Homo sapiens: one gene and its partner. The protein of the gene in region 2 purifies or fractionates together with the protein of the main gene of each other region. This does not show direct contact. Each region holds a gene or a part of one and is shown on either strand. Other genes may lie near its edges. The genes, in order: NMT2 and ERICH5.

What was found.
Region 1: the proteins of ERICH5 (region 2) and NMT2 purify together in Homo sapiens (affinity purification with mass spectrometry; one large-scale study listed by BioGRID and IntAct). This does not show direct contact.

The regions. Positions count from the first base shown.
Region 1 is NC_000010.11:15,113,166-15,116,990, reverse strand, and holds part of NMT2 (glycylpeptide N-tetradecanoyltransferase 2), read left to right. Parts: intron 1-3,825.
Region 2 is NC_000008.11:98,088,451-98,091,546, forward strand, and holds part of ERICH5 (glutamate-rich protein 5), read left to right. Parts: intron 1-625; coding exon 626-1,579; intron 1,580-3,096.

The DNA of each region.
Region 1 (3,825 bases), on a different chromosome or scaffold from region 2:
CTTTAAATGTTTGTTAGAATTCTCCAGTTGAAATGATCTGAGCTTAGCTGTTTCTTTTTTGGGAGTTTTTAAATAATGGACTAAATGTCTTTAATGGTTATAGCACTATTCAGATGATCTGTTTCATCTTGGTTGAGTTTTAATAGTTTTTGAGGAGTTCATCCATTTCTTCTAAATTGTTGAATGTATGAGTGTAATTAATGTTCATTTTATTCCCTTGTTATCCTTTTAGTGGCTGTGGGATCTGTACTGATATCTCTTCTTTCATACCAGATATTGGTGATTCGTGTCTTCTCTTTCTTTGTTTTTGTCCATATTGGTAGACTTGTATCATTTTATTGATTTGTTTCCCAGAGAACCAGACTTTTGTTGGATATTCCCTGTTGTCTTCCTGTTTTCAGTGTCATTGATTTCTACCCTCGTGTTTATTGTTTCCTTCTGTCTGCTTGCTTTGGGTTTATTTTGCTCTTCTTTTCTAGTTCCTTGAGGGAAGAACTTACTGACTTGAGACCTTTCCCTGTTACTAGTAAGCATTTAGTTCTATCAGTTTCCCTCTCTGCACTGCTTTAGCTATTTCTGACGTATTTTGGTATGTTGTATCTTCGTTGTCATTCACGTCTATGTATTTTTTGGTTTCGTTTGAGGCTTCCTCTTTAGCCCACCCCTACTTAGAATTGTGCTGTTCAATTTTGCTGTGTTTAGAGATTTTCTGTTGTCTCCCTATTACAGATTTCTAGTTTGATTCAATTATGGTTAAAGAACACACACTGTATGGTTTTGATTATTTTAAGGCTCTTGAGGTTTGTTTTATTACTCGGGATATGGACTGTCTTGATGGATATTCCATGGGTGCATGAAACGTGTATACCACTACGGTTGTGTGGAGTGTTCTTTGTATGGCAATTGCATCATGTTGATTAATTGAGTTATTCAGCTCTTCTGTTTCCATGCTGATTTTCTGTCTAGCAGTTCTATCACTTGATGAGAGGGGCATGGAAGTCCCCAGCTGTAATTGTGGATTTGTCTATTTCTCCTTCCAACACTGTCAGTTTTTCTTGATTTCTTCTGGGCCTCTTGTTTGATACTCACATGTATATTAGGGTCTTTGTGTCTCCCTAGTGGATTGATCTTTTTATCATAATGTAATACCTCTCTTTCTAATAATTTTCCTTGCTCTGGAGTATACTTTATTGTATATTACTGTGACCAGACCTGCTTTTAAAAATTGTTTGGACTTTTTCCATCCTTTTACTTTCAAACTATTGATGTTATTGAATTTGAAGTGAGTTTCTTGGAAACAGCCTATAGCTGGGTCATGTTTCTTTACCCACACTACTGATGTTTCTTTTGATTGGTGTATTTAGACCACTTACATAAAAGGTGATTATTGGTATGGTAGAGCTTAAGTCTACCATTTGATTATTTGGTTTCTTTATGTTTCTTCTGGTTCTTGTTCCTCTGTTTCTTTTTTCTTGCCTTGCTGTGGATTACTTGAATATATTTTAGGATACTGTTTTATTTATAGTACCTTTGGGTGTATTTGTATAGTTTTTATGATGGTTGATGTGAGTATTACAATATATATATGTGACTTATAGTCGATTGGTAACAACATTTATTACTTTGAGTCACCTTACTTTTATTTAGGTCACTTTACCTTTTTCATTTTTAAATATTGTTGTCTTAAATATCAGACAGTATTATGATTTTTGTTTTAATCATCAAGTATGATTTGTAACACTGATTAATAATGATGCTTGAGGAGAAGCATAATTTATTATATGTAGCCCAAATTTCTACTCTATTATTCTTCCCTCCTTCCTGATGCTTCAAGATTCCTTCTTTTATTATTTCCTTTCTATTTGAAGAAATTCCTTTAGCCAGTCTCAGGGTATGTCTGCTAGTGACACATTCTTTTGGTTTCCATTTGTGTGAGACTACCTCTGTTTTTAGATTTAGTTTCCCAATTTTTTTTTTTAATTTTTTTTGGAGACAGTGTCTTGCTCTGTCACCCAGGCTGGAGTACAATGGTGCAATCTCTGCTCACTGCAACCTCCGCCTCTTGGGTTCAAGCAATTCTTGTGCTCAGCCTCCTGTGTAGCTGGAACTACAGGCGCATGCCACCACACCCTGCTAATGTTTTGTATTTTAGTAGAGACGGGGTTTCACCACGTTGGCCAGGCTGGTCTCGAACTTCTGAGCTCAGAAAATCCACCCACTTTGGCCTCCCCAAGTGCTGAGATTACAGGCATGAGCCACCATGCCCAGCCCTAGTTTGCTAATATTTTACTTAGGATCTTCTATACTCACTACTGAGGTTGGCCATTAATTTCCCCTTCTTACCCTGTCCTTGTCCTGTCTTGATACCAAAGTTAGAATGAGCTGAAGAGCTTGTCCTCTCTTTTCTCTGGAACAGTGTATGTAATAATAGGGATTACTTGTTCCTTGAAAGTTGTTAGAAGTTGCTTATAAGCCATCTAGACATGGTGCCATGGTGGGTTTTGTTGTGAGCGGGGTTTTTTTGTTTTGTTTTGTTTTGTTTTGTTTTTTATCAGTCTTTACAATTGATTGGGTGTGAGGGACAATGGAAAGATCATCCCACTCTTCCCCAACAGTTGGTGATTCTCTGGTCATTTTAACAGCAAGAGAGGAAACAGTAATTTTACCAGCAATATGAATGTGAAGAAGTAGTTTTCTGAAAGCAGATGATGAAAATGGGGTGGGGAACCTAATCAGGTTCTGCAGGTGCCTGCAGTAATTCAGCGTATGAGATGGATATGAGAAATTCTTAGAAGAATCTAAAATCCTTATTAAACCTGAAGGTTGAATTCATCTCCAATACTGAGCTGCTAATATAGAGCAGTAGGGAATCACTGTAGATTAACCCCTTTAGTTTCTTGCTGGCTGAAGAAAGGTCTAATGACTCGGAAGCCTTTGAAAACCAAAGCATACATCCTTCTGGAATTTCCTTTTCTGCTGAAAGAAATACTAGCAGTGGCATGTGTGTGGTCCAGCCTCTTCAGCCGCACGATTCAAACACATCATATTCTAAAAGTCAGCAAGGCCACCACAGCTAATTACAACAACCCGAACAATACTGGCTAATTTCTTGTATTGGAAGCTTTGCCAGTGATGATGAAATGAATGTCATCCATTGTATCCCTTATTTTTGATAGCTGCAAAATTCTCCAGTTGTTCACATGTGTATATTTTGGTGCAGTAGTAAGACCTTTCACAAGCTTGCGAACTCTTCCAAACAGCTTCCAGACTCTACCCAACCTTACTTAGGCCTGATATAATTCTTTCTGTGTGCTAAGACAGTGTGAGATAGTACACAGTATCTTTTAGTTGGAGAAGGCAGCCCTCTAATCCTTAAAGCTTTTATTTCTGCAAAAACAATGAATCTGCTTTTATCACTGTTCCCTTAGTCTAAAGAATTGACTCATTTGTCAGCCTGAGGGAAGCTTTCCTTTTAGGACATTCTGCTTCTATCTTTCTTTCTTTTTTTTTTTTTTTTTTTTTTTTTTGAGTCTCATCCTGTCGCCCAGGCTGGAGTGCAGTGACACAATCTTGGCTCACTGCAACCTCCGCCTCTGGGGTTCAAGCGATTCTCCAGCCTCAGCCTCCCAAGTAGCTGGGATTACAGGTGTGCGCCACCACACCTGGCTAAGTTTTCATATCTTTAGTAGAGATGGGGTTTCACCATGTTGGTCAGGCTGGTCTCGAACTCCTGACCTCATGATCCACACGCCTCATCCTCCCAAAGTGCTGGGATTACAGGCATGACATTCTGCTTCCTAAGAACTTTGTGCAAATCACCAATGG
Region 2 (3,096 bases):
TTTCTTTTCCCACTGTGCCCCCCAAATGACATGAAACTCAGGCTGAACTGTCTCTGCTACTTCCCTTCCCAGACATCTTAGCCTTTACCTATTAGGGCTTCTCTGCCACAGTCCTTTTTCCATTTGCTGGGGGCTTTCCTGTGTTAGAAGGAAAGTAAGACCTCTCTAGCAGCCCAAGGACCTCGCATCATGAAACCTTCTAAGTTTGGGAATCTTCTATTGCCCTCCCCGCCAAAACAAAAATGGAAAAAAAATTTTTTAAAAAGGAAACCTTCTAAGTCTCAAGAGGAGAAAGTGTGAGACAAGGAAAAGAAGAGAGAAACAGAGTAAGCTCAGTTAGAATCTGGGACAGGAGCCATGAAAAGATGCACAAGGAGCAAACAGGAGAAAACTGTGGTTTTGGAGGACTTCAGCGCTTAAGATTAAATGTTTGAGCTGAAGACAATAAAGGGATTTGACTGGGAGAGTGTTAGGGTCATGGTATGGCCTTTCTGTACTCAGATATATTTGGAACTGTCTTGAACTGTTAAATCTACTTTGTGATGTCAATTCACTTTTCAAGATAAAACTAAACAATAATTTGTGTTTTCTCTTTTCTTTTTCTTTTTCAAATGAATAACCAAAGTAACTTCAAATGAGCATTTTTCAACTGCAGAAGAAAGTGAGTCCTGCTTTGCCCAACCAAAGCCACATGCACTGGGAAGAGAATCTACTGTTGATGGCAATGTACAAAGGGAAAGCCGTCCTCCCTTACAAAAGCTCAAGGTTTCAGCAGAGCCTACAGCTAATGGTGTTAAACCCCTCCAAGAACAGCCCCTGGCCAAGGACGTAGCCCCTGGAAGGGATGCCACAGACCAATCAGGGTCCACAGAAAAGACTCAGCCTGGAGAGGGACTGGAGGAATCTGGGCCGCCTCAACCAGGTGGCAAAGAGGATGCCCCAGCAGCAGAAGGAAAGAAGAAAGATGCAGGAGCAGGGACAGAGGCCGAGTCTCTAAAAGGAAATGCTGAAGCTCAGCCTTTAGGACCAGAAGCCAAGGGTCAGCCTTTGCAGGCAGCAGTAGAGAAGGACTCTCTCAGAGCAGTGGAGGTCACTGAGAATCCACAAACTGCTGCAGAGATGAAGCCTCTAGGAACAACTGAGAACGTTCTGACTCTGCAAATAGCTGGAGAGCTACAACCTCAGGGCACAGTGGGAAAGGATGAGCAGGCCCCGCTTCTAGAAACAATTTCCAAAGAGAATGAATCTCCAGAAATATTGGAAGGAAGTCAGTTTGTGGAAACAGCTGAAGAGCAGCAACTTCAGGCAACATTGGGAAAAGAGGAGCAGCCCCAGCTTCTAGAAAGAATTCCCAAAGAGAATGTAACACCAGAAGTATTGGACAGAAGTCAGCTTGTGGAAAAGCCTGTTATGAATGATCCATTCCATAAAACTCCTGAAGGTCCAGGAAACATGGAGCAGATTCAACCTGAAGGAATAGTTGGAAGCATGGAGCATCCAGCACGAAATGTAGAGGCAGGAGCATATGTGGAAATGATCAGGAACATCCATACTAATGAAGAGGACCAACGCATTGAAGGTAAAAGTTATGCTGGCAAACCTGGATGTTTAGATGTGCTCCATAGGAGACCAGCTCTGGGGAGTGGGATGGGGTGACTGACACACAGTCCCTGAAGTCACTTTCAGGTGGTTGAAGTTCGTTTGACCAAACCAAAAAGGCTTCTGTGCCTGGGAAAGAGGCATTCTATTAATGCTCAGTTTGTCAGCAAAACTTTTCCGAAACATCATCTCTGTCCAAAATTTTAACCTAGTGTTTAAATAGTGTCTAACATTGAAGGCAACATGTGAAACTTTCTGAATTTTTCCAAGTTGACACTTCATCAGGCCCCATGTATGAAATCAGGATCCAAAGTAAAGGTGAATAGATGATTACTGGAGGAATTCACCTTCCAATGAAATGATATATACATAATGGATCTTAGAATGTTATTTTCATCTTTGTGAAGCTTATCTTAGAAAATGACTGTCAGGACAGGGTGCAGTGGCTCACACCTGTAATCCCAGCACTTCAGGAGGCAGAGGTGGGAGGATAGCTTGAGCCCAGCAGTTCATGACCTGCCTGGGCAACATAGTGAGACCTTGTTCTCCAGAAAAAAAAAAAAAAAGAAAGAAAAAAGGAAAAAGAAAATGACTGTCAGTCTGCTCTTGTTCTTCTGCAGTTTTAAAATCTGTATGAGAAGACCAGAGAAAATGTACTATGTCTTAGCATATGGTGTTTTAAAATTTTAACTGTATTTTACCAGCATAAAACAAATGATGTTTACAGTGTTCTTTATTGGTGTTATAATTTAAAAAAATATTTTCTTCTGGGGTATGATTTACATTTTGGTAAATTTTAGCTTCACAGTTCAGTATACTTAAGTGAAGCATTCATTATAATCATCCATCTGTTTTTGTTTAATTCTTTCATTTATTTATTTTATTTAATTAATTTATTTATTTTTTGAGATGGAGTCTTGCTCTGTTGCCCAGGCTGGAGTGCAGTGAAGTGATCTCGGCTCACTGCAACCTCCACCTTCTGCGTTCAAGCGATTCTCCCGCCTCAGCCTCCTGAGTAGCTGGGACTACAGGCGCACACCACCATGCCCGGCTAGTTTTTGTATTTTTAGTAGAGACGGGGTTTCACCACATTGGCCAGGCTGGTCTCCAGCTCCTGACCTCATGATCCACCCGCCTCGGCCTCCCAAAGTGCCGGGATTACAGGCATGAGCCACCATGTCTGGCCAATTCTTTCATTTATTAACTCAGCATTTTTTGGCATGCCTAAACATATGCTAGGTGCTGAGATGCAGACTGAGGAAGAGATAGTCTCTGTCCTCAAGGGGCTCACTGTCTAGTGTGGGAAGGCAGGATGTGCGTGCATCACCATAGTCTGTTGTGGGAACTGCTTTCCTAAGAATGTGTAAGAAGGGCCCTGGGAACAACTTGGGAGAGGCAAATAAAAGCAGGTAGTTTTTACATCAGGATTGGCAAACTCAAAAGTCTTTAGGCCTAGGATACTGAAAATGAGTGAGGTGAAGGACACATGTCATACTG